2 separate regions of the Homo sapiens genome follow, and region 2 is linked to region 1. The links come from fine-mapping of genetic effects on gene expression. A gene starts in region 1. The other region holds a variant in brackets. All regions are shown on one strand. Distances are from middle to middle. Region 1 holds the start of LINC02421 (long intergenic non-protein coding RNA 2421). Region 2 has its middle 55 kb from the start of IFNG.

The links. PIP is the estimated chance that this variant, and not a neighbour inherited with it, causes the effect.
Region 2: its variant is fine-mapped to the expression of LINC02421 in tibial nerve (GTEx, PIP above 0.99).

Annotation. Positions count from the first base shown.
Region 1 is chr12:67,719,507-67,736,417 of GRCh38, reverse strand. LINC02421 (long intergenic non-protein coding RNA 2421) reads left to right here and starts at 6,943. Exons shown (of 5, transcript NR_110063.1): 1 at 6,943-7,022; 2 at 13,705-14,039.
Region 2 is chr12:68,096,698-68,113,608 of GRCh38, reverse strand. No RefSeq gene overlaps it. Among named protein-coding and RNA genes, the nearest start is that of IFNG, 55 kb to the left of the region's middle. The variant C/T (reference allele first, on the strand shown) is at 10,686.

The DNA.
Region 1 (16,911 bases):
GTGAAATGCCTGGCACAGTGCCTGGCACATGGAAAACAATAAATTTTAGTATCATTATTATGCAGAGAATTTATTTAAAAATACAAAATTTAACAGGAGAGTCTTTAAAAACATGAAATTGGATTATGTCACTGCTCTGGCTAAAATCTCTCCAATGGCCCCCTTTTGTACTCCAAAAAAATTCCAAGTCCTCACAGGGCCTTCAAACCCGCTACGGTCTGAGCCCTTGGTGATCTCAGACATTGTCTCCCACCAGCCCCCACCTGCTCCGTCCACTCCATTCACCCTGGTCTCCTTGCTTGTCCTCAATCACCCCAAGCTGCCCCTCCCACCTCAGAGCCTCTTCCTGTTTGTTGCTTCTGCCTGGAATGCTTATCTCCCAATATTGGCAAGGCTGGCTCTGTAATGTCATCCAGGCTTCACCTCAAATACCTCCCAACCTCGCCCAGAGAGGCTGTCTCCAAGAGCCCTCTTTAAAATAATGCCCACATCACTTTCTATCTCCTTCTCTACTGAACTTTTCCTCATACCTTTTACAACTACTTATAATTATTCTTTCTTTCTGTCTCTCTCTCCACACACACACACACACACACACACACACACACACAACTACACTATATCTAAAAATATATAATTAATTAATTGTGTCTGTCCTTGCCACCATAATGTCAGCTCCATGAGAACAGGGAAAGGTATGTTCGACGACAGAACCTTAGCCCTTAAGAACAGTGGAACAGTGCCTGGCACCTAGGAGATGCTCAATATATGTTTGTTGAATAAATGAATCAAGGGTGTGGATACAATCAGGAGTAATGAAGTGGTTGGTGAACCTATTCTCATTCAAGTGCAGTTTTCCCTGTGTCTGTGCCTGCAACCCATAAACTTCCCATTATATTTTTGTTTCACCAATGATGAGTCTTGGTCCCCTATACATTTGTCTTTATTCATTGTAGAGCACTCAGAGATGCATATTTAAAAGACAGATTTTTATCTCAGGAACATGGAGTTCAACAGTGTGTTTCTATTTTATTTTGTAGTTTTCATCTTGCTGTTGCATAAATCTGAGTTATGCAGGGACGGGGGATGAGATGCCTTTAAAATACACCTGAATATCTGCAGATGCTCTTTTCTGTACTGCAGTGGTAAAGGGATTCCTGAGCTCCAAAAGAGTAATTATGTCAGATGATTACTGGGAATCTAAAACATTTTCCTCTATAGCATAGAAGTAAATTAAACAGCAATCAAATAGGAAACAAATATTTATCGCAATTCGAAAAGTGACTTCAGATGCACTCTGAACCACTCAAGAAAATTAATGAAATAGCTTTAAAATCCTATGTTCTTGTATTGCTATGTCTACAGTTCCAAAGATTATAACACAAGTTGATCTTTTATTTTATAAAACTGATTTAAGAACAAATACATTTTGACTATTTCCAACATTCAAATCAGTCTTTGATGGAAGAAAATCTGCCATTAACAATATTCAAAAGAACATGCTATAAGTTCTTAATTACAAAGACACAGCCCAAAAATATTTTGGAAAATGCAACATTGCTGAAATAAATTAATAGCTTTCCAATGTGACTGCTCAATTAAATGCAAAAATTTTGCTGAGATTTCTAAAATACACACACATCTCATGATAAACTTACACATATTTAGTTTGTGGTACATTAACTTTTCCAGTATACATCTTAGCCTATTTAAAATGGTTCTTTACAACTTTTACAAATTACAGTAGTTATGACAGAACTACATATTCTCCAGGAAAAAGAAAAAGAAAAGATTATTTAATTTGAAAATGCATGGTACTGGTCAAACATTTTAAACTATGCAAATAGTTATAAAATGTATTTCATTATTATATAACTCCATTAATTCCCTTGAAGTTCTTACTTTTAAAGAGGCCTTCCTTAAGGGTATTTATTCAAAAGACATCCCTGATTAAATGCCATTATAAGTAATGAAACTATTAAGAGGAAGGAGGGAGGGAGGGAGAAAAACAAAAACTTCTGCGTGACTTAAAGATTTCTAAATCCCAGCCAACATACTAGTAATTTCAAATAGTATTCACTACAAACGTTTTAGCAAACCAAAATCATGAAGCCTTTAGAATTTCATTCCCAAACTTGACTGGCAGTGAATTCAGATGTGTATCATGTGTATCTCTTTTGAGCTATTATTATATTTATCATTTGAATTTAGTAGCCAGTTCACCCAGGCTGGCCCATTCCTTCAAGTCAACACTCTAGTATTTTTCCGCATGGCCTGGATAAGCAACTTCAAATTATTTACCAGCCAATTCAGCTTAAAGAGGCAAATCAGTAATATACATAAGCTCATTCATTATAATCTCAGAAAAAGTCACACTGGTATATTATAAGTAATTGCAGCCTGGGAGACTAATAAAGAAAGGCAGCCTTAGGAAGTTCTCTGCATCATAGAATGCTCCCCTTTATTACTTTGCTAAGGCTTGTTTGGGCTTCATTCTATGTGACAAAAATTTTTCATAATGGGCTGGTAAATGCCCCATGGCGTATTTCAAGGAAAAGAAGATAATGATTAATGGTAGGATAGCTTCATGCTAAGGTCAAAACCCCTTTTGTGGAGGCAAATAACACACAAGTTTCTACTTACTAGAGAAGAAATGGGAGGGAGGAGGGGTTCCATCATAGATACAATAAAACAGAGAATGTGTCTTACTCCAAATCATTTCAGAGACGTAGATTGCTCTAGAAACCTAGAGCTAGTTATAGAACACTGGCCTTGAAATGAAACTGCCACTGGGGAAAAATGGAAACAGAAAGGCTTAAATACATTCCCTCAAAGCTCCCCAGGGCTTTTCTTTATGCCCAAGGCATTTCTGGTGGAAACAGCCTAAAGAGACAAGAGCGATGTTTTAAAAATTATCCTCGTTTCTTTGGAACATTGAGAAAAATACTTACATACTTTAGTTCTTCCACGCCTGCCTGCTTTTTGAGTAAAATTTATATTTAAAATATTTTATTTATCTCTCAGTTGGCAAAATCATTTAATTTTGCCACTCTTCTAGAATTTATGTATTTATTCAATATTTCAGCAACTTTAAAACTTCATAGCTAAATATATTACTTAATCATTTATACAAGATGTAATTACTGAGCTCCTACTAGGTTCTAAGGATACAGCAATGAAAAGACTGCCAAGTTCCTTACTCTTCTGAAGGTTACTTTGTAGTTAGGGGAGAGGAAGAACTAAAAAATAAATAAATAAATAAATAAATAATAAAATAGCAGGTGGTGCTAATGCTGTAAAGAATCAAAGTAGGGCAGTATGATAGAGAGGGACAGGTGGCTACCCTAGACCGACCGGTCAGGAAAGTCCTCTCTGATGAGGTTAACAGCTGACCTGAGAATTGAATGACAAGAAGGAGCCAGACATACAAAGATCAAGAAGAAAAAGCATTTCAGGCCGGGGAAACAGCCAATGCAAAGGCCCAAATGTAGAATCATTGTGGTCTCTTCTGGGGACAGGAAGAAGATCAGGGTGGGCAAGTGGGACGGAATGAGTTCAGAGGAATAGGCATGGACTAAATCCCAGTCCAGAAATTACGATCTATGGCTGGACGCTTGATTGAATTGGGAAACATCAGAGCAACACATTTTAATCTGATTCTAGCCTCTTGCAATTAATACTTCTTCTCCTAATCTGTCCCCTTCCAAAATAGCCTGCACTTCAGTGGCACATTAATTGATTCAACTTCCTTGTTCAAAAATTGTCTTATAGACACCATCTGCTCTATAGAAAAAGTTCAAATTATTTAACTTGACATTTACAGACCTCCAAAAACTTACACTAGCTAAACTATCCACCTTTATGTCCCCTGCTCCACTAATGAATACTCTCCTCTAGCCAAACCTTTTCTCCAACACTCCTTTTATTTTATCCTCTTGATTTTTTTCTCATGCCATTTTCTATTGTTCAGCAAGAGCTTTTCCTCCTGTCACCAAATTCATATCCACTTTTATTCATTAAAATATTTTTGTAACTAGCAAAAGAAAACCCAACACAAAGTGGATTAAACAAAAAGAAATTTCTTGGCTCAAGTAAACTAAAAGTCCAAAGTAAAGCACATTCAGGCACAGTTTGATTCAGAAGTTCATGATGTCATTTATTTTGAGATGATCTTGGCTCTGTGTGTTGATTTCATTCTCAGGCTGGTTTCCTTCAGAATAGCAGAAATGGCTGCAAGAGTTCTAGACCCTGTGCTCAGTTGAATCGTGTTCCCCCCAGATTCCTGTCCATCTGGGACCTGAGTATGTGACCTTATTTGGAAATAGGATCTTGGCAGTGTAATTGCATTAATATGAGGTCATATTGAATTAGGATGGGTCCTAGTCCGGTGACTGGTGTTCTTACAGGAAGAAAGGAATATGGATTTAGAGACACAGAGGGAGAAGGCCAGGTGAGGACAGTGGCGGATATTTGACTGAGGCAGCCACAAGCCAGGGAACACCAAGGATTGCCATCAACCACCAGAAGCTAGGAAGATGGAAGGAAGAGTTCTTCCCTAAAGCCTCAGAGGCACCTCAGAAGGCACATCACCTGTCAGCTCCTCGATTTTGGACTTCCAGCCCCGAGAACTATGAGAGAATAAATGTCTGTTGTTTGCAGACAGCCAGTTTGTGGTGATTTCTTACAGAAGTGTTAGGAAACTAACACAGGCCCCCGTTGCTCATGGGCCATCCAGGAGAATAGAGAACCATGTATCTGGCAGCTCCCATGCAAAAGAGCAAAAACTTCTTTTCAAAAGCCTCAGCAAATTTTCCTTGTTTCTCTTGTGCCCATGTCTGAATCAATCACTGCATCCAGAGAACTGCCATCTGGAGCTGAAAGAACATCTCTCCTGTTCAAACCACATGGCAAAATGGTGGAGGAGGGATCTCCAAAATAAAACCAGGGTTCTGTTGCCAAGAAAAAAGGGAAAGAAATGCCAAGAGGGCAACCGGCTTATGTCCACTCTACTATTGAAGACAGGATGATTTTGGCTGAAAGTTACAGAAAGCCTTTCTCTCACTGGCTAGAGCATTGAGAGAATATATTGTTTCACACAATAGGTGATCTGGAGGCAGATCAAACTTCAGGCACCACAGGAACGGGCTCCAGATCTGCATCTCCCCTGTTCTCCAGCCTCAGCCTTCCTGCAGGTATCAGCTTTGTCTTCATGCCATCTCTTAACATGGTCACCAGAAGAAACTGGGGCAACTGATGATGTCTTTTTCATGTCCAGTGGGAGAGAGTACCAATCTGATGCCCAATCATGAAATAAACATCTTTCCTCTTAGACTGCTTGGACCCAAACTTGGATGGAGTTTGCTTTTCCTGAGATAAGTGTGCTGCACTCCTGTGCCCATTCCTAGATCAATGCCAATTGCTAAGGAACTACAATTTACTGATTGGCATAAGCCTAGTTCTCTGAATGAATCATGAGGGAAGAGATGTTACTATCACTGGCTTGGCATTAGACTAATTAGGATTCTCCCTTGGAGCTTAAGAGGGAGTTTGCTTTCCCTGAAACAAGTGTGCTGTATGTGGGATGGTTTCTAAAGTATGAAAAGAAGAGTGAATAGATGCTGGTTAGGCAACTAATTCAGCCACCACACCATCCTTCCCAGTACATATTGGATCCTGCCTCCTCCATGAAGTCTCTCCAGATTACCCAGAAGCAAACTCTTAGTCTCTGAATTCTTTCAGCACTTACTGCTCATACTAATATTTCACATTTACCTTATATTCTTTTCTTCTTATTCTCCATCTGCTTTGAATTACCTTATATTCTTAATAATACTTTTATGTACATATTTCTCATCTCCTGACTTAAATTCTTAAACGTGGGGTGTTACCCTTCCCACTATGTTGCAATATATCTAGCACATTACCTTGCCCAGAATATTTTATGCTCAATAAAAACCTGTTGCTTAATTGACTTTTAACAAGCAAAAAGAACCAGGCAGCCTTTAAATTTAGCAGGAGACATGTAGATCCAGCTCACTAGTTCAGTTCTTTCTTCTTCCTAATAGAAATCTCCCCTTGCTCATTATCTCCCAGGAGTCGTTCATGAAGACATATTGGTAATTCATCTGTACTTAATAAAATGGTTAGATTTTGGACCTAATTAAATAGTGAGAAACAGTGAAAATACATGACTTGACTAATATTTTGAGTAAAAATCTGGACAAGATACAAAAACTAAAGCAGGAATACAAATTTCATTATGGAAGCTGAATACGGTAAAGGAAACAAGACCTCTCCAATTGGAAAAAGATGTTTTAGTCACTTTTTCTATTTTAATAATAAGAAGCACCATTGTGCCTATCCACTCAAACTATAGATTTTTCAGCATCTTCTAGGTCTAACCTAGCACTCAGACATGAATGTTATGAGTTCCATTGCTCAACACTATACTTTTAAATTTGTATTCTCTCTGAAAAATGATTTTATCAGATTTAGTAGGAGAACTTTTAGAATGATTTCTTAACTAAAATCTCAGTGATCTAGCACTTTGATTAATAATTTATTAACAGAATTGTGACCACCTTGAGGATATCTTGAGGACATCTGAAATTTTCTCTACAAATAAATTTCAGTAATTCTGATGGTAATAGTTACCATTAATGAAAAATGTAATGTCCTGATTTAGACATTTACTATGGTTTGAATGTTTTTCCCCTCCAAAATTCAAGCTGAAACACAATCCCCGGTGTAACCATATTAATAAATGGGGCCTTTAAGAAGTGATTGGGTCATGAGGGTTCTGCTCTCATGAACGGACTAATCCATTCATGGATTACTGGATTAATGGGTTAATGGATTAATGTGTTATCATAGGCTTGGTTTAGTTATCAGAGGGCGGGTCTGTTATAAAAGCCAGTTTGGCTCTCTGTGATGCTTTCTGCCAGTTATGACACAACACAATGCCCTCACCAGAAGCAACCAGAGGCAGACCCTCGACCTTGGACTTCCCAGCATCCAGAACTGTAAGACATGAATTTCTTTTTTAAAACAATTACCTAGTCTCATGTATTCTGTTACAGCAACAGACAATGGACAAAGACAATAGACAACCAAAAGCGATAAAAGAGGTCAATGTTTTCAAAAAGAATTCATCTTCCAAAGAATGAGAACAAACAAATTATTTACTAAAAAGTAGAAAGAGTTGAGGCTCAAACGTCTAGATGAAACCACCTTATTTCCCTCAATGGGAGCAGGAAAATTGGATGCACACTCTCATATTAACCTTTCTCTAGGTTAGTGGAGATAATCAAGCCTGACTTGAGTGCTGAATATGCATTACCACTTATTTACTACCTGCGTAAACTTTGTTCTTATTTTATAAAAGAATTTGAACCAAGGATGAGTTGGGCTTTAATAGTGATTCAAGTCTCCAGGAACATTTAATGTCCACTGGCCATCTTCAAGTCACTAGACTGAGTAAGGCAAGAATACTGCCAGTAGGTTCAAAACCCAAATTTTAGTTCTAAGCATTTCCAGGGCCATCCTTCCCTCTTGTTTTCAAATTAGGTAGATATTTAATTCTTCTGTAGACCAGCTTTAAGAACTAGGGGAGGTGGGAAAGGAGACAGGTGGAAGGAGAGTATTTCAAACACAACAGCATAAAAATGGTCTTGGCTTGACAGTGACTATTTCTAAGCCATCAAATTAGAAAAAAAGCGGCTCAATTTGAAACTAGAGGATGAAGCCCCTGGTGGATTATAAATAATAAGGCCCTTCTTACCTAGCAAGCTTTTAGAAACAATAGAATGTAGTGTGTTCAGGAGGCCGTAGGCCTGAGTCCAAATGCCAGCTCCGCTCCTTGCTGTGTGACCTTGAGAGGTTGCCTAACGTTCCCAAGCTTCAATTTTCATATCTGTAAAATGACAGTGATAATAGTACTTACTTTGCAGGATGGCAGTGAAGATTAAATTACATAATCCATGTGAAACAGCTAGGAAAGGGCCTGGAATATATTAAACATCCATAAATGCTAGCTACTATGACAATTACTAGGGGGAAGCCAGCCTGCTTTGGGCCCACTCTACAGCCTCTGGCCCAGAGCTGTCAGCCCACCCTGCAATTATTTACAGACAGAAAGGGCTGCTTCACTCATTTCTCACTTCCTTGCTTCATTTTGCTTCTAGAATGGTTTATGTCAACGGTTTCATCCAAAGAGATGAAAATAATAATGTCTATTTACATAACATTATCCTTGTTTTCCTTCTTCCCTCAGAAATGCTCTGGTATTATCAAATTAGTTGCATTTTGAAGATGACATCCACTAGAACTAATCAAACTCAACAATCTTTGTTCCTTGATATTACCCTGGATCCTCACCCATTAATGTAACAGCTGCAGTATTTTAAGGGAGACCGGGAACACTCCCACTGCAGACTGTCTGCACTTGGTGACTGCAATCATGATTATTTACTGAATACTAATATTCTGTATGTGTTCTGTGGTTTAGCTTTCTAATGCCAGTGCTTATTCAAGGCAGAGAATAATAAATCGTCAGGGAGGAGAGTTGTTCCTGCTTAATCCAAAATCTAGTTCTCTCTAGTTGTCTGCTAATCTTTATAACATTAAACTCTTGCAGACCAAATTTCTGAATAGATAAAGTGAAAGATAACCATTTAAATCTTAAACCTCTTGAGATATTGTGGTTTCTAATAAGATATATATCTTTGGTCTTCCTCCCGGCTTCCTGACACACAACTCCTAGAACCTCTGGGGTCTCCAGAGTGACAATAGTGTCACTGTATGCTAATGAGATGGCCAGTAGCTGCCAGCCCCTGGGTAGCTTCAGGATGGGCCTGCTCACTGAAAAGACCAAAACACAATGAGAGGGTTAGGACTTTCAGCCCACTCCCCAACCTTTGGGGAGGAGAAAGGTGCTGAAGGTTGAGTGGATCTGCAATGGCCAATGATGGTAATCAATCATGTCTACATATAAAGTCTCCATAAAAACCCCAAAGGACAGGGTTCAGAGAGCTTCCAAATAGCTGAACACATGGAGGTTCCCCAAAGGTGGTGCGCATGGGGAAGGCATGGAAGCTCCCACCTCTTCCCCCAAACCTTACCCCACGCATCTCTTCCATCTGGCTGTTCACCTGTGTCCTATATTATATTCTATATCAATAAACCAGTAAACATAAGTAAAGCATTTTTCTTAGTTCTGTGAGCTGCTCTAGCAAATTAATCAAACCAAAGGAGGTGCCATGGGTCAGAAGCACAGGTCACAACTTGCTCGTGACTGGCATCTGAAGAGGGGGGTAATCCTGTGGGACTGAGCCATCAACCTGTGGTATCTGATGCTATCTCTAGGTAGATAGTGTCATAATTGGATTGAATTAGAACATACCCAGCCAGTGCCCACAGGAGAATTCCTTGCAGACTTGTTTCGGTTGGTATGTTAGAAAAACACCCACACACCTGGTGTCAGAAGTGTTGACTGACTGCGAGAGTACAGAGTAGAGAGCAGGAAGCAACAGTTTGGTTTTTTCCCTATATCCTTGTATCTCTTGAGCATCAAACTGGGATTTGAGCATTGGGTAATCTTCTATTTCTAACAATGAAGTGCTGTTTGAATTTTGTCACTAGGTCTGAAACATATATCTGATGATGTCCTGTGCATTGAAACTTCCTTTGTGTTTGAGATGTTACTGACCCTGTTACTTCTTTTGCTTACAAATGTCTCCAAAAAAACAGGAGCAAAATAAAACGCCCTTACCTCATTCCCTTCCCTCTGGGCTGTAGCTCGATAATTCTAACAATGTCTGCATGACAAATGAAAACTTCATTATTTATGTACTTTTCGTACATGATAGAAAACAGATAAACATTTGGTATTATTTAGACTAAGGTTTCAGATGTTTGGCTGAAATTTCATCTTTATATTCTGCTTTTTATCTTAATATCTTGGTGGAATTCCATTCAGAGCCTATATTTATACACACCATTCAAGTGGTAGAAAAAATAATTTAACACAAGGCCACCAAATTGAAGTGCCTTTACAAATCTGTTATTCTGTTGAGAAAGGTTTTTACTTTTTCAAACCAACTGCTGCCACTACTGCTAATGATTATTACTCTGCTTTTTTTTTTTAATGCCGTCTAGCTTTCTTTCTTCCAAAATGTGATATATGCTTCATATAAAAATTCAAATAGTGCAGAAAAGCACAAAGAAGACAGTAGAAATCACTTGAACTCCCCTTCTCTGAAGACAGCCACCATTTATTTATATTTTGCTGAAGACAAAATCTTGTCCTGAAGATAAGATTTACATTTTGCCTTTGGGACTTCTTTCTATGAACATGTACATGTAAATGCGATTGGACATAATGTCCTCAACTTGGCCTTTCTAGTCAACAATACTTTTGGACATTTTTCTATGCGAATACATGTAGCTCTGCATCTGTGATTCTCATTAAGTCCTTCTTTCTCTTCTAGATAAGAGTATGATGCATAAATTGAATGACATGGAAACATGTATAAAAATAGAGAGACATCAGCATCATAATTCATAATATCATATATCCACTGAATTGATATGCCATACTTTTTTAACCTTATTCCTTCATGGTTGGTGTTTGTTTTCAATAATTTATAATTAAAAGTTTTTTGGGTCTTTACTTCCTTCAAGTTTTTAATTTTTTAACCTATTTGTAGATACTACTTTTATCTTTACCCTGACTCTTATCTATGGTCTGAAATATTTTACACTTGAGAAAGCAAATTCTGATAGCACTGGATCTGTTCAATTGTAAACCCTTTGTTTGATGCCTTTAATCTATTAGAAAGGGAGTGCCATTCCTTGATAACATGTAAAGCTACCTATGCGAAGTAAAATCTTTATTAGAATATGAAGATTTGTTCTTAACTGACTTTCCTATCTAGCAAACAATTCAAGCTAATGGAAAATTGTTGGTTTGCGTGCCAGTTTTCTTTTGGTAATTCTGATAAATTACACAAGCTTATGCAGTTTCCTTTTTATGCTGGTAAGCTCAAGATTTATCAGGGCATGTGGTCACTCATCATTATATTCCAGTCCTCAAAAGTTAACACTTGAAATAAGGTTGAAAAATTTACCTAAGTTATAGGAACAATCTAATTAGTTAGATCAAAATTCATTTTCAGAAAGGAAGGCAAAGGGATCTATTCGAAATTAGCATTTCAATTTATGTTTAGAAATATTCATTCTTTTGGACAAACTTCCATATATTTACTCTGCCTTCCAGAGAGAGAGGCAAATACATGTATCATTCACTCATTTATTCAACCCACTAGGCTGTGATGTGCACATCATTGTCCCAGCAGACGCTGTACAATTAATGGTCCCAATATACACTGATGTCTTGAGGCTGGGCTAGCCTCAATGTTTTCAGTCTTTACCTGGTTGGTTTCTTGACTTGCTCTTGAGCCAAGTCCATTCTCTTTTCACAGCCATGCCTCTTTCCAGATGAGTCCAGAAGCTGAGTAGTGGCTCAAAATATATCTGACTTGAAGTGAGGAGACCTGAGTGGGATCCCTAGGGAACCTTGACATACATCTCAGAGTTGCTATAATATATTCACATCAAAATGGGGGCCATTTCACCAATCTCACAGAGCTTTTGTGAGTGCTAAATAATGTATACGAAAGACTTGGACACACTGAGGGCCTGTAGGAAGTGTTGTGCTGAGCTACTGTTTCCAGTGTCAAAGCAGAATAATAAAATTCCTTTCTGCTTGCTATACTGGATGGTTCAAGCCACAAAAGAAAAACAATAGGTAAATCCATCCAGATCCATGTAACTCTCACCTAGCAGAGAATTTTAAGACTATTATTTTCTTGAAAGCCAGACTCCCCTTTTTCTTTTTTCAACACATTGAAAAATATGACGTAGAAAACCAGAAAGCAGACACCTTCATTTAGATGCTTCACGGCAGTGGCTAATGTTTAGTTCCTGATTCTTACATCTTCCCTGGTTCTGAATCACATTTCATAGGTCCATGTATGGTGATTGCATGTCCTTTATTTAAGAGGAGAATCTTAAAAATCAAGGATGGAGAATCTGCAATCTTAGACTTGATTTTATCTTGCCCGTGGCGTGATGGTGCTTTGGCTACCTCCACCAATAACCAGAAAATCATTTCTCCTTGTGGCGAGTTGCTGCTGTGACTGTCTCATTCAGAAGAAAGCTTCTCAAGAAACAGATATTAGAGCTGCAAACAACATTGAATCAGCTAATGATTGTGGCAAAATATGTCCCTCATTCCACAGCCCCAAGGAATGGGAGAAGCAATAAGAGGATATTTTTGACTAAGGTTCCTCTTATTACCTACCTATCTTCCCATATTTCCCATGTTTCTCCAAGTATTTCTGACATCTTAAAGTTTTCCATCTCCAGTTCAAGTCCCGTCCTAATCCTGTATCTCTCATAACAGAGTACATTGTAGATATAAATCATTTTAGTCATTAGACTCACACAATCTTAGAGGAAAAATCATTATAATCATTTACTCTGACCCTCTCCTTTTCAGATGAAGAAAGGATGTCAGAACTAAAATTTATTTTATTTTGTTTCATTTTTATTTTTTGAGATAGGATCTGGCTCTGTTGACCAGGTTGTAAGTGCAGTGGCACGATCATGGCTCACTGCAACCTCCGCCTCCCCGGCTCAAGCCATCCTCTCACCTCAGCCTCCCAAGTTGCTGGGACTACAGGCATCACCATGCCTGGCTAATTTTTGTATTTTTTGTAGAGATGGGGTTTCACCATGTTGCCCAGGCTGGTCTTGAACTCCTGAGCTCAAGCGATCCACCCGCCTCAGCCTCCCAAAGTTCTAGGATTACAGGTGTGAGCCACCACGCCTGGCCCAGAACCAAAATTAAAATCAGGTTCTGGGACCTCGAGTCCAAAGCGTTTCAAATTTGCTGTATTTATGAAGTAAATGTTGAAGTTACCCATAGTTAGTTTTAAATTAGGTGAGCTAAACATTTCCTGTTTGTCTAGGGAAGAAAAGAAAAGACAGAAAGGCTTCTCTGCCTACCCTGTGGCATCATGCCTCATCTAGGACAGTGTATCCAGCCTCCCACAATTCATGTCCACTCCAGCAGTTGGACCCTTTTATTGATGGGCTATATCTACACCTGATTAAAAAGTGGAGAAATTCAACCAAGTGACTGATAGTCCTGAGTACCCTTTTTTCTGTCTAACTTAACAAAATCTAAACCTACTGTCTTCACTTTCCAGGCAAGAAATGTCTGTTTATGATTCCTGCCCTTCAGTGACTGGTAATGAATAACCATATGTGGAAATCAAAGTCTATATTGCAGTGTTTTGACAAGCATCTTTGTCCAATATCTTCTTCTCATAGGATATTAGATTTTATTTGAATTCTCATGCCAATTTTTTGGCCTCTGTTAGAGTATTGTATATTTAAGAAAGGCATTATTTTAAAATTATGGTTTTTATTAAAAATTACTTAGGTTTTTTCTGTATTTGCTATTTTTTTGCAGTAAATTGTGATATTTTCCTATTCTTATTATAGGAAGACAAATTCACTTTGGGAAGGTAAATGTTACATTTTAATAAAAGTCAGCTTACAGTTTAGATGGGGATAGTGAACCTAAAAGGGGAACAAACAGTTGTAAACTTTGACATTTCTCATTCTTCTTAACTGCAGCATAAGATTTACCTTTATTTTTTAATATTGGAGAACTTGCCATGTAAATCCTAACATGTGGATGAACTAAATACCTGGGGAGTTCATCATCTCTCACAAACTAAATCCAGAGAAAAAACTTCCTGACACAAGAAAAAACTGCAGTTAAATGGAAAACAAATAAAGCAAATGAAAATTGGAATGTGGAGCATTTTGCATGCCAGATAAGAAAGGGCATGTGACAAAGGAGAGCCATTTCTTCCATTTGAGATTGGAGGGGGAAGAGTCCAAGGCTAGAATCATGTGGCTGACCAGGCTCCTGGGACTTCCACATCTGCACAATGGATCATGCAAAGGTGAGCTACATAACTAAATGAAGTTTTTACTTATAAATTCGCATAGTTCATACAGTGGACATTTATCATCTTTTTAGGTGCTCAGCATCTGCACTTGTTTAGGGATTTTTTCTATTGTGAGTCATGGTGGGAAGCAGGGCCTACCTTCCACTACAGAAGTGGAAGAGAGCAGATAGCAAGCTTCTACTCTCCAAGGAATAAAGTGCAGGTGTGTTGCCTGTGCTGCCAACCAGGTGCTCTCACTCAGGTCTTAGAGACTGGAACAATTACGGTAATAGGGATTCACTCCAGCTGCACAGACCACAACACCCAGTGACCATCAGTAGCCGTGGAAGCTGAGGGCCTGAATCTCTAGAAGCCCTCGCTACTCAAAGTGTGGTCTGGGGACTTGTTAGGAAGGCAGAATCTGGGACCCACCCTAGACCTACTGAGTCAATATATTATAGTGCCTTGCACATAGTAGGGCCCTAATGAATATATCTTGATGTATAGACATATGAAAATATATTGAAATTTGATCTTGTGGAAGCTATCTGAATTATATTTCTTCAAAATATAATTATGTAAACAGCCCTTAACCCAATGACTGTACTCTTGAAAACATATTACATGATATTGTGTATAATAAATTGCATTTTACTTGCATTTCATTGATATTTAAAAGACTCTTCCAGTGAATCCTTCTGTAAATTCATTATGCCTTTTTAAAGTGAATAATCACTCCTTCATTTATCTGTTGTTAACATATGTTCCCTAAAGCAGGGCACACCCACAGTAAAGATTACTGTAATCATATGAGTTGTCACTGAGATGACCAGTGGAATTCTCTGCATGGCCCTTGTTATTTTGGTCCTTGTCTGTCTTTCTTTCGGTTCCTGAAGTGCCAGCTCCACATGATCTTGGTGTGTACTAACACATAGCTAAGCAACCAAAATGGATAAGGAAAACAGTTCCCTTTACAAGGTCAGCCAAGTGCTGTAATTCCAAAGCACTGCACTGTATTCGGCTACCTACAATTCCTGGACATTGAGGGCAACCTGCCCTTCCCGTTGGCATTGTGCCAGTCTTAAGAGCCTTCAATGGCCATCGCAAGCCCATGTTGGTAGAGTGCCACTAATACAGTGCCTGAGAGAACATAAAGCTCTCCCACTCTCACCTGGAAGAGGATGGCTCCTGAAAAGCAAACTTATTGTTTAAAAGCATTGTTGAAACAAGCTGGAGAAGCAATAGAGTAAGAATTGTGAGGAGGGACAGGAGCTGTTACAACTTTGCAATCAGACAATCAGCCAGTTACCTTCTTAACTGTGTTCTCAGGGAAGTTCCTTAACCCCCTAAGACTTCAGTGTCCTCCTAGATAAACTGCAACTAGTAAGGATGCTTATCTAATAGGTACCATGGGCAGTAAGTGTGAGAATGGATATAAAATACAGTATCAGACGCATCATTATTGCTCTAAAATTATTAGCTATTATGATGGTTATATTTCTACTGCACATGCCAGCTCATCGACAATTTATGAAGCCTTTAAAACCAGGCTTGACAACACATATGGCATAGATAACAGGATGATTTTCAGTGGCTTAGAATTTGACCCCATCCTCCTGCTCCCAAAACCACAACTTTTAAAAGCTGTAGCCACCATAAATTTTAAGAGGTGTCGTGTTGCAGATAAATAAACACAGACTTTGCCCTCAGATAGATAGGGATTCAAATTTCAGTATCATAGATGAGACTTCCCTTTTCCCTTCCTAAAGATATCCAGATTTTTTATTTAGACATCAGTCCCTCCTCCCCACAACCCACATGCTTCAGGGGAACTGGCCCAGACAGTAGACTTAATGGGCCTATGGGAAATTCCAGCCCCCTTGCCAGGGTGATTGGCTCAAGAATTCAGGCCTCAGCCAATGAGGTCATTAATCCCCTGAGACAAGGACTGATTTAATAATAGACCAATGATACGTGAGGAGGGAAGTAGCAGTCACGAGAATGCACCCAGAACACCTCCTTCTATGGCAGCATAATTGACCAAGGGCCCCAGCTGCTGCACTTTGGAATCCATCCCCAAGTTTGTGAATCCTAAGGAATACTAAGACAGACTAATTTCTGGGAGACACAACTCCTTTGTCAGCTGATTTGGGGTGAAGGATTCCCCTAAGATTTGCTTCGACTGCACAGTATAAGGCACTTCCATTCGGCCTTTCTCTCCCTTTCCTTTAATTGAAGTCAAATTTCCATCAGTGCCTGACGCTCTTGCAGCCTTCCCAGCTCCCTGCCTATTTCCATTTACACATTCATTTTCCCTAGTAAAATCCGAGCACATATCAGTCCATCTTAACATCTGCTTCTTGAAAGACCCTGACTAACACCAAAACTTTCCCGGAAATTTTGAGGAAATAAGTTTCTTTGTTCTTAAGAGGTAGGCACTGGGGAAATGCTCTTTTTTGCTCTGGATTTTATGAATATCATGGAAAGCCTAGAATTGCTCCAGCCATTTTCCTAACAAGAGTTGTCTTCTCCAGGTTAAATATTCCTAGATTCTTCTACCTTTCTTTATACTAAATGGTTTTCAAACCACTTACTATTGACAGGTGACAGCGTGCTGGCAGTCCTCACAGCCCTGGCTCGCTCTCGGCGCCTCCTCTGCCTGGGCTCCCACTTTGGCGGCACTTGAGGAGCCTTTCAGCCCACCGCTGCACTGTGGGAGCTCCTTTCTGGGCTGGCCAAGGCCAGAGCCGGCTCCCTCAGCTTGCAGGGAGGTGTGGAGGGAGAGGTGCGAGCTAGAACTGGGGCTGCGCGCAGCGCTTGCGGGCCAGCTGGAGTTCCGGGTGGGCGGGGGCTTCGCGGCCCCGCACTCGGAGCAGCCGGCCGGCCC
Region 2 (16,911 bases), 380 kb before region 1:
ATAGGGCTCAGGTCTCTGATATCTGTGTTGGCTCCTAGAGGTCAGTGATGTAGAACCTAGGACTTATCCCTCAAACTCTAATATGACCCAAGGTTATTATATGCCTTATTGACTGATATGTAGAGATGCATTCATACCAGTTAAGGTTGGTGTGGTTTGCTGGAAAGGGCACTGGACTGGTAATCAGCTGGCGGGGCCTTGCCACCAACCAGCTGTGTGTTCTGGAGCAAGATTTCATTTCTGTGGTTCTCAAGTATGACATCTGAAAAATGAATATAAAGGACTCATCATTTAATTGATGCTTATTAATTTATATAAAGGAACTGAACTTAATATTTTACATATATAAAATATACATATACATATATATAGTATATATGTATATGTATTATATATATTATTTACATACAAAATAAACATTTATATGTATAAAATATACTCATATTTTTGATTACCTGAATTATTAGGACATTAGATTTTTTATTCTTAAAATATATATTATTTAGTGACTTAAGGACTAAGTGACATATGTGCCTTATCGTGCATGTTGTGGACTCAACATTTGTGTCCCTTGAAATTCAAATGGGCCTTAATGCCCAATGTGATAGTATTTGGAGATGAAACTTTGGGGAGTTAATTAGGGTTAAATGAGGTCATGAAAGTTGGACCTTGGTCTGATGGGATTAGTGACCTTAAAAGAGGAAACACCAGAGAGCTTGCTCTCTCTCTCTCTCTTTCTCTCACTCCCTTGTACACACAAAGAAGGGATCATGTGAGCACATGGCAAGATGGTAGCTGTCTATGAGCCAAGAGAGGAGGCCTCAGAATGAAACTTCACCTGCTAGCATCTTGATCTTGGACTTCCCAGCTTCCAGATCTGTGAGAAATATATTTCTGTTGTTTAAGCCACCCACTCTATGATGTTTTGTTATGGCAGCCTAAGCAGATTAATACAGTGCAGAATAGAATCCTAAAACCATTGATTATAAAATGAACCATCAGACAATCATAGAATCATTTGAATTTTTCTCACCTAAGCTTATGCATATCATGATAAAGTGATAAATGTCTTTCAAATACTCTAATGCTACACTCTCTTTCAAGAATTCACAGTGACGAAAACGTGGGTGGAAATGCTGAATTCTGCTTCAGAGAATATAATTAATAAAATGATAACGTAATTGTCAATGTCATTTTTAAGGCTCTAACACTTGTGTATTTCTTTCACTGTTTTGCTTTCCACCTTCAAATCATGGTGAGAATTATGAAGTTCATCTGTAAACAAAATTTCATAGCTCTTCTAAAAATATCAGTGAAGAAGAAATTGATCCTTTGATCTCCTGCCTTCTTTTCTGTTTCTTTCACCCAGTAAGTTTCATTTTATCAAGGGAGAAACAGGAGGAGAGATGCTGACTCACTGATAAAACTTCTGGAGCTCCAGGGACCAATGAAAGAGACTTTGCATCTAATTGCATGGCTTTTCAAATTGGACCAGAAGTAAAATTATGTGTTTTGAATTTATCATTGTATATAAGGGTTTTATAGTTTACTCTGAATATTTTTGGAAAAGAACAAATAAATAATGTGTGCTATCACTTATTACTAATGAATGGTTAGTTTATTCAAAGAAAAAGATGAAAAGTTAAATACACAAGTGACAATCATATTTAATATACTGCTTACTCCATTTTTCCCTCATACTTTAGATTTTCTTCAGTTATGAGTTTTATATATATACTTCTTTTTTCCCTAAATCTTGATTTGCAATGTAAATATCAATCCCATAATTAACACATTTTTTTCCTCCATTTAAAACGTGTTTTTAAACTTTTATTTATTTTATTTTATTTTATTTTATTTTATTTTATTTTATTTTATTTTATTTTATTTTATTTTTGAGAAAGAGTCTCGCTCTGTCGCCCAGGCTGGAGTGCAGTGACCTGATCTTGGCTCACTGCAAGCTCTGCCTCCCTGGTTCATGCCATTCTCCTGCCTCAGCCTCCCAAGTAGCTAGGACTACAGGCACCCGCTACCACGCCTGGCTAATTTTTTGTATTTTTAGTAGAGACAGGGTTTCACCGTGGTAGCCAGGATGGTCTCGATCTCCTGACCTTGTGATCCGCCCGCCTCGGCCTCCCAAAGTGCTGGGATTACAGGCATGAGCCACCGCGCCCAGCCTTATTTCTATTTTTTTTTTTTTTTTTTTTGTAGAGACAGAGTCTTGCTGTGTTGACCAGGCTGGTCTCAAACTCCTGACCTCCGGCAATCCTCCTTCCTCTGCCTTCCAAAGTGCTGGCATTATAGGCATGAGCCACTGTGCCTGGACTTTTCTCAATTTTATTGTCAGATTCGTGTAGTCTGAATTATTAGTTTATCAAGGAAGTCAATAAGAATTTTAAGAACTCATTTCTGATAGAAGTTAATTTTTGAGATACAAGAAGTTTGATCAGCTAAGGTCAAAGTAATGGCTAATGGTAGAAGCCAGACTGTTTCAGAGGGTTGCAGATTCTGAGACCGGATGTGATATTATAGACATAGCTATTTTCTCCTCAACAATTGAATATTAAACTGCCAACATAATTCTAATCTTATGTTGGGCAATCAAAACACAGGGCTGGTCAAGAACTGATTAAGGGCTTGTTTTCTGAGTCAGACAATCAGCAGCAAACCTCCCACCCACCCCAATTTATTACAGTTCTTACTGCTCTGTTACAACAAGGCCTTAACACACCCAACTTGTTTATGTTTTCATATATATATGCAAATCTCAAGTTATAGATTTGGGGTGGTTTTCAACGTGACAACATCTTATACCCTTTTCTTTTTGGGAACTCTGAACAGGTCAACCCGTTTGATGTAATGATGTAATACCAGTTATGTTTAATAAAGGAAATATTCTTTTCATTGTGAGACTGTTATATGTTTCCCCATTATCATCTAATTTCTTTTTTATTATTATCCATAATTCTTTCTTCACTGTTTTAATTCTTTTTATTTTGATTTTTGGGAGTTTCCTCTGATTACTATCTTGTGTGGCATACTTCATCGAATGCATGAACATTGAGCGGATTTGCCGGCATGGAGAGGTTGCCCTTCATTCAGAGCCACCTTTGTCAGGAGGAGGAGCAAGTCAGGACTTTGACTTTCTGGTGGTCACATAGCTACTGAAAGGATTTCTGATCCTTGCAATTTTCATATTTTTGTCTTTCATCCACTTTAGTTTCTCTTCTCCACTATTCTCTACTTTATTTTATTTTTTAACCAACTTCTTTCCTTTACTTGCCTCTTTGCATCTGAAGCAATCTATCGATTAAAGAATGCCTGTCTTCCTTCTCTGAGTTACGATCCTCAAGTGAAGGTTGGATTAGTTTCTTAAACCAGCTAAAATCTACTATGTTCATTTTTATCTACACTAGGCCTCTAGGTTCTCCTTGGAGTTGAAATTCCGTCATTTGATAAGTATTTAAAAGGAAATACTTCATGCCAGGCACATGGTGGGAATCAAACAGAAAAGTTCCCATATCCTCACAGGGCCTGTGTTCTGGCAAGGGAGCCAGATGATAAACAACATGTGTTAATGTGTGGTGTAATGGTAAATAGTGACAACAGCTGGGAAGAACAATTGAGCAGGATTGAGATAAGTGGGAGAGAAGGTGGAGGCAAAGGCTATCTGAAGAGGTGACCTTTGGGCAGCAGCTGCATGAGCAGGAAGGCAGACATTCAAACATCTCAGGGCAGAGAATTCCAAATGTGGGAACAGCAAAGTCTCTGAGCAAGGATGTGTCAAGAGTATTTGAGAACAGCAAGGAGGCCAGTGTCTGTAGGGTTGTGATAGGGAACATGGAAGGAAATTGGGTTCCAGAAGGAGCTGGGGGCCAAATCCTGCCCTCAATGAGCACTGTAGGGGGAAAAATAAGGAAGACTTTAAAAATAAAAACCAGAAGCATTTTTGCTTACAGTGCAATACATCATCTGGAACAAAATAAGTGGTGCTTATTCTGTCTTATTGCAAACAAGAATGTTACTGAGTATTTGAAAAGGGAAGTAACCCAGTGGCCTGGGCATAAGTGAGGAAGGCTTCCTGGGAGAGGATGGCCTTGAGCTGTTCTCATGCACTCATTTTCTCAGCTTGCATTTTTTGAGTGCAAAATATGTACCAGGCCTTTGCTAGGTGTTGGAGATATGTGATGGGCAAAACAGACCCATTCCTGCCCCCATGAACTTACAGTCCTTTAGGGGAAAGGTAAAGCAAAGAATTATACAACTAAATATACAATTACAAACTGTGAAAAATGCTCTAAAAGTATGGTGGACCATAGGGTGCTGGAAAGACTAAGATAGGCACCTAAGGTAGCCTGGGGAAGGAGCATATTATAGGGGAAGGTGACACATAGGAAGTGGCCAGATGACAGGGAGCTGGCCAGGCAGGAGGTGTGCAGAGCTGTCTGAACAGAGGCAGCAGACTGTGGGGTGGTCCTGGGCAGAATAGGAGGCTTATTTGGGGATCTGAAATGCAGCCAGTGTGGTTGAGCATAGTGAAAGTAAATAGGAAAGGTGGAGAAGGTCTTTTCACAATGTAGATGCATCCAGAACATGTGGGACTTTGGATTTTGGATTTTATCCTTAAAATACTGGGAAACAACAAAAGGTTTTAAGAAGGGGAGTGACATCATCAGATTGATGATTTAAGATGCTCATGCTTCAAGCTGTGTATGGAAAGGTATTGGAAGAGGTCAAAAGAAGAATCAAAGGACTAGGTTGGAGGGCACTGTAGGAGGTCAGGATAGCATGATGCTGGCTTAGACTGGAGTGGTGACAGTGGAGACCAAGAGCAAGGGCAGACATATCTTTGAAGTATGTTTATCAGGTAGACCATGGGAAACACATGGAATTTTGATTTATCTATGCTGTAAAAAAATTAGAAATACAAAGAAAACAAGAGCCCCCAGCTTACAAGCTCTTAAATTAGAACAATGAAATATACCTTGACCAGGAAACCAGGCAATCTCACTGGAGAGCTTGCATGTCAGCAGTAATTGTCTTTTATTCCTGGAAAGTATTTGGGAGTCTGATTTGCTACTTTCATACAAATTCCAAAATAATACTGAACTTATTAGTAAAATAGTATACCTGAACTAAATAGTATACCTACTGTGTGCTAGGAACAGCTGTAGGTTTGGTTTTGGGACACAGTGGGGAGTAAATAGTCAGACCTCCTTCCTCAAAGAGCTGGAATTCTGACAAAACTTAAATTTCTGTGTACCTTTTAAGAAATGTATAATTTTAGCCAAAAGATAATAAATAAGAGTGATGTGTTTTTTAAATACATCAGTTTGATATAGGAAAGTATAAAATAATACTTTCTGAATTTTTATGAGACAACTTCAAAAGATTCTATTAGAAAATACTTTAAAGTAAATAAATTAATTGGCAAACAACTTACTGGGAAAGCATTTGCCATCAAAATAACCAAAGAATAATTTTATTACTATAAAAAGATCTTGTAGAAATCATTAAATAAAGCAGGATCCCCCAACAGAAAAAATGTACTGAAAGTATAAATACCTTAAAAATAAGTAATACAAATGGCTTCCAGATATGAGAAAATTGACCTCTGTAGTAATAAAAGAAACACAAGGTAATTCAATCTGACATTATCTGTCCCTGTACTGCAAAGATTTCCGTTTTTCAATCATGATACTTAGTGGTGGGTAGGTGTGGCAGAGCCAGTGCGAATTGACACAGCTTTTCTGGAAAGCTGTTTGCAGTATGGATGATGAGCCTTAAAATGTTAAATCCTTGTACTTAATGCTATTTTTAGGGGTACACTCTAAAATAGTCACTGATAAAGACAAAGATTTATGTACATAAAAGTGGATAAAGGGTTCAAGATAGGACATAGATATTGAGCTTATAGGATCAGAAAATTAATTCTGTGACCTGAATCACAATAAGAGTTTTCAGAACTTCCAGAGATCTCATTTTGACTCTATTGTGAATGGATTGAATGGCCTTAGCAAAGATCTACAGCATCTGAGTTGGAGTCTCCATCCATTTCCTGGTTGGGAGACTACATTGTACTGGTTTAGTGCTAAAGCAGAAGTACAGATCTTAGAGTTTCCTTATGCTCCTGCCCCAGAGAGCTGCTGGAGGCTTCTGCTAGCCCAGAGATTGGATCAGAGCCTTGACATACCTGCTAGGAGCTCTCTGACGCCATCTCCAATCTCTCAGTCTTGCCTTCCACCTCCATTCCAGATGTTAAGTTTCAACACACACACACACACACACACACACACACACACACACACACACTCGGTGGAGAGGAAGACTGAAATAAAGACATCAATGAGTTTGGAATCAATTATAATAATTGCAATGCTTATATAGTGCATATGTCAGGCAGTGCATTTTATTTATAGTAACAAATTTCATCCTCACAATAACAATAAATAAAATAATAGTACCATAAGGTAGATACTATTATGATCCCCATTTTACAGATGAGGAAACTGAGGCATAGTGACTTGGCCAAAGTTATACTAACAGAGTATGGCAGAGCTGGGACTTGAATCTAAGCAACCTGGGTCTAGAATTAGGCCTTTAAATCACTGTATCATCCTGCCTTTTTAATAAAATCACTGAAAATTCATGTCCTGACTTTCCCACTTACCAACTGGGTAACTGGGAAAGGCACTGAACATCTCAGATACTGGGTTTCCTATTGTGAAACAGATACAGTAATACCCACCAGACTGAGTGCCATGATAAGGGAATGAAATGATGTGTGTGAAGTTCTTGACACCTAATGCACATGGAAATACTTATGGTATTATTACTCATAAGCATATTTTAATGCACGTGAGTCTGTACCTTGGCTTTGCCACAATATTTAACTGCCACTGAAAAATGACTTGCAAAGACAAAGCTGTGCTGGCCTGAAACATTTTGAGGCCCATTCCTTGTGTCACAGCATTTGGTGGATATACAGCTTACTAAAGAGTGCTGATCCCTACCTCTTGGCCAAGTTTCCAGGCCATCTGCACATCCTGGAAAACCTGATGACTCTAGACGAGGTCTCAGCCCATTGTGGGATCCACTGTAGTGGGTTTGACAAAAAACTGTTGGCAGTTTCCTATCACTGTAGTGTGCGGCAGCTAAGTTTGGGCACAAAGGAACTCACCAATATGGACTAATACGTAACATCGTGGGCTTGAGAAGTGAGCTTGCTTGTCTGTTTGATCCCATGAGCTGGCTTCTAAGGAATGGCTGTGGTACAGAATTTTATACCAACCACAAGAATGTAATTATAAGCACGTCTTGATCTACTTCCCACTTATGTGGTCACTGCTTGACATTTTGATCCTGCAGAGTAAGAGTTCTAAGAAAAAGAGAAAAATAGATTCCTCATATAGCCTAGAGTAGAAATGGAAAGGGAAACATTTGTCTTGGGTAGTCCTGTGTTTCACAAGTTTAACAAGTTCTTGTGTTTATTTATATAATGTATATATCTGCTTGTTGTCTTTAATTTTCCTTTTTTTTTAAAGGTATAAGTTAACTTTGTGCTTAACACTTCCTGATCTCCCACTTCCTTAAATCACTCCAACCTCTTGCTTCTGCTGTCACATCACCTACTACTTACTTTGATCCTCTTATTTCTCACTTTATAAGGACCCTTGTGAGGACATTGGGCCCACTCAGATAATACTGGATAACTTTCCATCTCAAGATTCTCAACTCAATCATATTTTTAAAGCCCCTTTTTCCATGTAAGGTAGCATATTCACAGGGTAGGATGTAAATATCTTTGGGGGAGCCATTATTTAGCCTACCATGGTTGATCAAATTTGTGTCTTAGAAGTATCACTCTGAGGATCACATATAGAGTTGATTTAAGAAGTATGGCAGAAGTTCAGGAAAATAAATTTTAAAATGTTGCAATAATACAGGCACAACTTTGAAGAAAGATATGACAATGAGGAGGGAAAGGAGGATATGAATTCCAAAGATATCCAGGAGTTTAAATTAGCAAAGATTTCACGACCGGTAGGAAATAAAGGAGAGGAAAGAATCGAGGTTGACTCCCAATTTTTGATTTCAGTTAGTTTGTTGTGATATAATTAACCTGCAAGGAATGCATGAGAATTTGTGGTCAGGGGACAATTAGTTCAGTTTGAGCCACACAGTTTGAGTGGCTGATAAAATATCATGTTGTTGATAACAATTGTCATTGGAAATTCAGGCCTGAAACTGCCATAAGAAAGAGATCATCTGGGGAGAACACATTGAGTAGGAAAAGAAGTTCAAGAATAGAATCTTGGAGACTCCAACATTTGATAAGAATGGCTGGGTAACAGGACAGAGAAGGGAGGAAATAGAGATGTCATTGAAGTGAAGAGACGAGAGGCTTTCAAGAAGGAAGGTGTTGGCTGTGATGTCAGATATCTTACGGAGCCAAGTAAGATCAGGCCTGACGATCTATTGGACTAAGCGAACAGATAGAAGGTAATGTTGGATCTTATTAAGAACAATTTTAGAGAGCCCATGAAGCCTGGAGCTGATGGAAGTATTGAGGGTGAGAGTGAAGTTATTATTCAAGAAATGTGATTGTAAACAGAGGGAAAAAATTGGATAGTCAATACAGAGAGAAGCAGGTTTCCCCTAGTGATGGCAGTGGATTTCACATTTTATAATTTAAGGGAAAGCCATTGGGGAGGTAGAAAATTAAGACAAGGGAACAAGAGATTGATGGAGAGAGGAGATGAGTAGTATCAGGTGGTAGAGGAGATAAGTGAAGATCGCACGTTTAAGGGTTAGCTCTATAGACAGAAGTGGAGAAGGAGGCATATATGTAATGAGTGAGAATATAGATAGGTACATTAAAAGGGGATATGGCAAAGATGAAGGAAGTTGAGCTTGACAGCATCCATGTTTTCTATGATGTAGGTGGTAAAAGCATCTCTTCACTCAGGAGCTGCAATCTGAGCTCACAAGCTCAGTCTGGGGTATATGTGCACAGATTTGGATCCCAGCTCCACCACTTCCTAGCTGGGCAACCTCAGGTGGTTGCTTAACTCCTCTCCAGGAGTTCAAGACCAGCCTGGGCAACATGGCAAAACCCCATCTCTACAAAAATTAGAAAAATTAGCCAGGTATGGTGATGTGCATCTGTAGGCTCAACTACTAGGGAGACTGAGGTGAGAGGATTGCTTGTGCCCGGGAAGTTAAGGCTGCAGTGAGCTGTGACTAAACCACTGCTCTCCAGCCTGGGCCACAGAGTGAGATCCTGTCTCAAAAAAACAAAAATCAAAGTGCTTATTAGACTCATTTCTTTAGCTTTTTAAGACTTCTTCCAATAAAAAGTTGTTTAAAGTTTTAATATGTATCAGTGTGCCTTTTGGATATATCTGATCTTCAACTATAGCATAATTTATTTAAAGAATGTAGTCCATACATATTATTTTAGCTTGATGCCACGGATAATAGGTCTTGTTTTAAATTCACATCTGGGAGAAAGTTTGATATCATATTTATACCTGCAGGTCTAATAGGATGTTTTATAAATTTCATTGTATGAGATCTTCATCCTGTGATTTCTAAATTTGGGCATCCTCAAGCCTGAGGGCTATCTGTGATCTCATGGTAAGGAGTTCAGGGTCTTAACTAAAACATCTCTATCAATCACTGCAGCAGGCTAGCTATCCTCAGATGCAATGTGAGTTTTCACCAGTCTAGATCCTCTGGTGTCCAGACATTAAATATGGCTTAATTTATCTCTAGATTTTTTTTTTTTTTTTTGAGATGGAGTCTCACTCTGTTGCTTGGGTTGGAGTGCAGTTGTATGATCTTGGCTCACTGCAACCTCCGCCTCCAAGGTTCAAGAGATTCTCCTGCCTCAGCCTCCTGAGTAACTGGGACTACAGGCATACACCGCCATGCCTGGCCAATTTTTGTATTTTTTGTAGAGACGGGGTTTCACCATGTTGGCCAAGCTGGTCTTGAACTCCTGAGCTCAAGCAATCTGCCTGCCTCAGCCTCCCAAAGTGCTGGGATTACAGGTATGAACCACCATGCCCAGCCTCTAGAAATAACTTGATTACATCAAGTAACTTTGAAAAATTATATATATTATATATAATTTACTTTTATTATGTATAAAATGAAAAATTTATCTATATAATTTATCAAAATGTCTTTATATATGTATGTATGTGTGTATATATATACATCTATCTCTATATCTATATCTATATCCATATCTATATGTCTCACCCAGGAGAGAGTGCATATGCGTGAGAGAGAAGCAAGAAGGAATAAGGAAAACAAAAGTAAAGGGAGTGAGAAGAGGAAGAGTTAATGAATAGTTTTCTCTCATTCTGCTAAAAATGCCTGTATGCTCTCTTTTTTCAATCCAGAAAATAAAGTCCCAAACTAATGTGGCACTCTTACAATTTAATCATCAATTCATTGTGAACAACTGGATGAGGAAAAGTTGCCCAGAGTTACCAAAAATAAAATTCTTTAGAAAGGAGAAAAGCCATGCCTTAGGAAATTGGTAGAAGATATGTGATGGACACAGCAGCTTCTCATCAATTGACTTGGTTTTACGTTAAAGGAAACATGCAAATCTTTGTAGGTTAAACCACATATGAAATTCATGAGAGCCTCTTGGGCTTTAGGCACTGACT[C/T]TGTGGAAATACTAGCTGTAAGCTGCTTTCTTAGGGAAGGGATGTTTATTCTGTCACGGTGCTACTGAAACAGCTCAAAGTTACCACCTTAGAAATCTAGCTTTCACCAGGTACTTTAAAATTCCTTTAAAAAAGTGTATTTTATTAATTTCATTCATAATTTATTAGCCCTTAAATTTTTCCAGTAGCATTTGATCTGCCAGAGCTTCCAAATGTAGGATATTTTGTACTTCGAATGCAAACTAGTTGTCTCTTGAAACTGGGTAATGGGAAAAATTTAGCACAGAAATATCCCTGTGACCAAGTTTCTGAGTAAACGTGCTAGGGGATTCAGTTGGGTGCTAAGAATACACGGAAGAATACACTCATGCATCCCTCCTTTGATTAATGCAACAAATATTTATTGTCTACTTCGTGTCAGACATTGTTTGCTTCTTGCTTTAGGGATTAAGCAGTGAACAAAGCTGTTGAGGACCTTGTCCTTATGAAGCACATGTCCAGAGTTATGGGAAGCAGAAAGAAAAAAAATACTGCAAATACTTTATATTGTATGTTGTAAAATAAAGCAGGACAGGTGGATCATACCACTCCTTTGTTTAAATTCGTCATTTATTTCTGTGACTTTAGGAGGGAGTCTAAATCCCTTGCCTGTATCCTGGCACTCTGTTTCTTCAGGCTTCTCTCTTGTTGCCCCCATTCTTACTCAAGGCTGCAACTTTCTCTTTTCTTGGCTTGACCCTAGGACTTTTCAAATATACCTCTGAGACCCTTTATCCTCTGCTCCATCACTATCTTGCCTACACCTGGCCAGCTCCCGCTGAACCTTACGTCTCAGCCTAAATACTGCTCTTTTCAGGAAGTCCCAAAATTCTCCCTCCAAGTCTGGTTGTGCATTGTCATGAGTGGTCCCTTACCACCTGGTACATCCATTCATCTCTTAACATGGCGCTTGTTGCCCTGTATTATGGCACTTGTGTGTGTTTTGTGTGTGTGTTGGGGGGAAGGTGTTGTTTTGTTCTGCTTTTGTTTGACTGGCACACAGTTCATACTTGATTAATGGGTGAATGGATAGATGACAGAGTGGATGGATGAAGGAATGAATGTGATAATGTAATGTACTCTATCTGATACTGGACTTTTTAAGGCTGTAGAGACTCCCATTCTTTGAGTTCACACCCAATAGTCCTCCTTTTCCTAATTCCTCTAACGGTGAGTAAATTTTCTTATTAGTGACTCACCAATTTTTCCCGCAGCAGGTGGACAAAACCTCTTTAGTAGACTAGCCTTTCTTAAGCCAGTGGGGGGAGAAAAGATTCTATCTTTTAGGGAATTGAAGGCTATGATGTAATGTTAATAGCATAGGAGAGAGCAGAAGCTTTGCGTGTCTGAAGCATGGCTCTGTGTTGAAAGCTCTTGAGAACACTATGCCGGGGGTGCTTTTCTAAATCAAACTTCATCCATGAAATGTAATTTGGGGAACTTTCCACGTGGCGCCGTGTGGACTCTGGCAGACAATAGTATTTTTATTTGCTAGTAGTTTTCTTTCGGAGAGGGAGAGTGATTTCGCTATTTGGTTTTTTCTTCCATTTAGTGCTGCATAATGCTTATTAGAGACAAAATCTTACTACTTCCCTGCTTCGCGTGCTGTAAGCTACCTAAATGTGTTCTAAGTATTGTCTTAGAGGGCGTGTGTGTGTGTGTGTGTGTGTGTGTGTGTGTGTGTGTGTGTGTGTGTGTGTGTGTTTAGGAATTTGAGCCAGCCCCCACCATTTTCCTGCCCTCCCTGAGGCTGCAGGACTTTAGGATTTATTGTAGCCACTCTTAGAAGGACAGTTGCAGTTGTGTCTGTAGAGAGAGCCTATAAATATCAGGGCATTTGGTAACTGAGAGTAGAGACAACTGTCATAATCATGGGTTCTGCAAAGACTTGAGTCTGCTGGAAGCAGTGTCTTGGGGTCGGCAACAGGCCCTTCAGGAGGATGGCTGGGGAGGGGTTTGGGGACAATCAAAAGGACTATATTTTGCAACTCGCTTATTTTCCTGAAATGAAATTCATAGGTAAGTATAGTCCTGCTATGCACATACTTTGCAAAATCTAACATAATGATCTACCTGTAATATAATATTCATTTTAGCTTACAAATGCTAAAAATAACTATATTAGACATAATGAAGTAGTCAAATGCTTGTACCTAACACAATAAATGTGTTTGGATGTAAGAAAGTAAAATCATATTCAACTGAATAACGCTCATGTTTTTGTATATGAGATATTTTGTATAAGAGATATTCTAAAATTTTCATGTGTCCTAAATCAGACTCAGCCTAATTTTCTCACCACCCTTCTCCGTGTTACCCTCCAACTGGTTCCTAAACCAATCTCTAATCACTATAGTGTGTCAAAAATCCTGTGTTTCCTCTTCATCTCACTCCTGCCCTACCCTCTCCTGCCTCTGATTTATGACAACAGCCGTCTAACTGGTTTGTCTGTCTCTAGGGTGTTTTAGAAAGTTGCGTGGTCACCACAGTAATGGGGTGGTGATGAGTATTTGGTGAGTACTGGCCAGGAATTCTAGAAAGCCTAACATGCATGGAGCAATGCATAGAACAGTGCATGAAAAAGTGCAAAAATGTCCTGGGTCCCACATAACATTTACTCATCCTCTGTACCCTGTGGAGATGAACTTTTATAATTACCTAAACCTAGAAATTAATTCTAGAATCAATCTGGGAACTTTTTAGTTTTTTGGGGAAACTTCTTTGTCATTGAATTTATATGCACAAAGTGGACTAAATTATTATCTTATAAATCTGTTTCGTGACTGTGGTTATTTCTCATTTTTTTTCTTTCACTATACTTGCCTAGGTAACTAACGCATGGATTATACATTTTAATGTGTGTTCATTTTTCAAAGAGCCAGCTTTTAATGTATGTATTAGCTCCATTACTTTTCTGTTTCTGATTCATTGATTGGATTTTATTTATAGAATTTGCTTTCTTCTACTTTCTTTAAGAGTAATTTGAAGTTCCTTTCTAAATTCTTATTTTTCTTTTTTTTCCTGTTTAGTAATTTTTGTTTTAAACTATGAATTTTCTTCTGACTTGTGGTTATATTAAAATTTTATTTATCATTAGTTTTTAGGGATTTTGCAGTGTTGGATTTAATTTCCATGTTGGATTTCTCATGAGTTAAGAGATATTCTAAAATTTTCATGTGGCAAAGATTTATTTTCCTATTTTTGTTATTAATTTCTAATTTTAATGCATTATGATCAAAGAATATGATCTATACTATTCCTATGTTTTGAAACTGAGGTTTCCTATGTGGCCTGCTGTGGATTGAATTGTAAAATATGTTACAGTTCTAATCCCTTGGTACCTGTGAATATGACCTTATTTGGAAATAAGGTCTTTGCATATATAATCAAGTAAAGATGATGTCATAAGTCAAAAAGTAACTGAGACAGGTCTCAATCAATTTTGAAGTTTATTTTGCCAAGGTTAAGGATTATGACCTATTAGGAGGTCCTAGGAACATTGGCCGAAGGTGGTTGGGTTACATCTTGGTTTTATGTGTTTTAGGGAACATAAGACATCAATCAATATGTATGAAATATACATTGGTTTAATAAGGAAAGGCAGGACAACTTGAAGTGGCAGGGCTTACTGGTCGTAGGTGGATTCAAAGATTTTCTGATTAGCAATTGGTTGAAAGGGTGAAGCTGTGCCTGAAGAGTTGAAACTAGCCTGAGTTAAGGCAAGTTGGGAGGGCTAGAGAAGCCTAGGTTCTTGTTATGTAGATGAAGCCTCTGGGTAGCAGGCTTCAGAGAGAATAGATGTGAACATCTCTTATCAAAGGTGTCAGGCTCTCTGGAGAGACCTAGTAAAGGAAGGAGAATCTCTATAGAGTGTAAAACTTCCTCCACAAGAGACAGGTTTGCAGTGCTATTTCAAAATATGTTTTTTCTTTCAGGACTTTGCTGTCATGTAATGCTGTACTAGAGACAGGTTAGAATTTGGTATCTTATGGCTATAAAGAGTCTGTTCTGTCAGTCTTAGGATCTCTGTTATAATGTTAATGCTGGTCAATTTTGTGCCTGAATTCCAAAAAGAGGAGAGTATAATGAGTCATGTTCAACATCCCCTGCCCCACTCCACCATCCCATCATGATCCAAACTAGATTTTCAGGTTTCTTTGGATCCCCTTGGTTGAGACGAGGGTCCATTCAGTCTGTGCGTGGGGTTAGAATTTTATTTTTGGAACACAATATCATACTGCCATACTGGATTGGATTTAATAACTAGTCTAATCCAATAACTGGTGTTCTTTTAAGAAAAGGGAAACTTGGACACAGAGATACACACAGCAAACACTATGTGACAATAGAGACAGAGATTCTAGTGATGTATCCACAAACCGAGGAAGGCCCAGGATTCCTGGCAATCACCGGAAGCCAGGAAGAGGCAAGGAAGGGTCCTCCTCTAGAGCCTTCAGAGAGAGCACGGCCCTGCTGACACTGAGAGAATAAATTTCTATTGGTTGAAGCCACATAGCTTGTGATTCTTTGTTATGACAGCCCTAGGCAACTAATATGTAGCCTAATAAGACATGGCCAAACTTTGTAGATGAAAGGAGCTTGAAAGGGAGGTATATATTTTTCCATGTGAGGATCTACCTTCTTAATTATGTTAAGTCCTCTATGTCTTTTCTTATTTTTGGTTTATTTGAGTTATCAAAGACAGAGAGATAAATTAAACTTATTTATGGCTACTGTCTCTCTATTTTTCCTTATATTTTAATAATTTTTGCTTTAAGAATGTAGATGTGATGCTATTTGATGTAGATGCATTAGGCTCAGAATTTCATTGTGGGTTGCATTTACTTATTATTACCATAAAGTTCTATTCCTCGAATTCAACCATGCCTAACATTAATATCCTTAATATCCTGACCCCTGCTTTACTTTTATTTTCATTTGCTTACTGTATTTTCCCATCCTAAAAGGATGGAAATGATACTTCCAATTTTTTGAGTAACTTTTCTTACATATTATATCACTTTTTTGAGTTTAGACTTCTTAAAATCCAATTAGAGTCCTTTAAAGAAGTGAATGTGTCTGACTTTTATTTATCTGACATACATGTTTGGTTTCTCTTATATCATCTTAAATTGTTTTATTACAGTAGTCACCCCTTTTCCACAGGGGATACATTCCAGGATCCCCAATGGATGTCTGAAACTGCTTATAATACTGAACTCTATATATACTGTACTATCGTTTCTCCTATACAATCACATTGTAGAGGGTGGGTAGCGTATCAAACATGACTATGCTGGACAAAGGGATGATTCATGTTCCAGGCAAGATAGAGCAGGATGAAGCAGGATGGTATAAGATTTCATCACACTACTCAGAATGGTGTTCAATTGAAAACTTAGGAATTACTTATTTCTGGAATTTTCCATTTAATATTTTTGGACCTAGGTTGACCCAGTAGGTGAAACCTTGGAAAATAAAGCCATGGATAAGGGGGGACTGCTGTATATGTTTTCTTTTGAAATATTTTGCTCTGTTGGTGTTTTCTCTATTTTCTTTTGTGTGTTTTCTCATAGCGAGGAAGTTTTACAGCCTACTTTTAGTTATTTGTGCATAGGCATTCTCTGTGGTTTGTGTACATGCCTTGGTGTGTGTAGGTAGTAAGGTGAAAGAGCCTGTGTGAAAGAATAAAGATGTAAGAGAATTTGATGTGCTCCAGGAATGGCAAAAAGATCTCGATAACTAGAGCACAGGCTGTGTCATGGTACATTAGCCTGGAGAGCTAGGCAGAAGGCAGGCCATTGTGAATCTCCTTAGATGTTTGAGAACCACTGAAAGATTCTGAGCAGGTGTGAAACAAAAACAAACCAGTGAGCAAACTCTCTGGCAGCCAAATGGAAGATGGTTGAGGCTAGGGTGAGAGGAGTGACTAGAAGCAGGTCAACAAATTAGATCTCCATCATATTATCTCAGGTGAGAGGTAATGAGAGCTTGTGTGAAGCCTATGATAGCACAGGTTGAGAGAAAAGAGTATGTAACAGGTACAAAAGATTGTAGGTTGATTATACACGGAGGTTGGGTAGAGAAAGGGACTATCTAAGGTAACTCCAGGTTCATGGACATGTAAGTGGACTATAGTTCTATTCATTGGGATAAGGACCTAGAAGGATGGGCAAGTTTAAAGAAA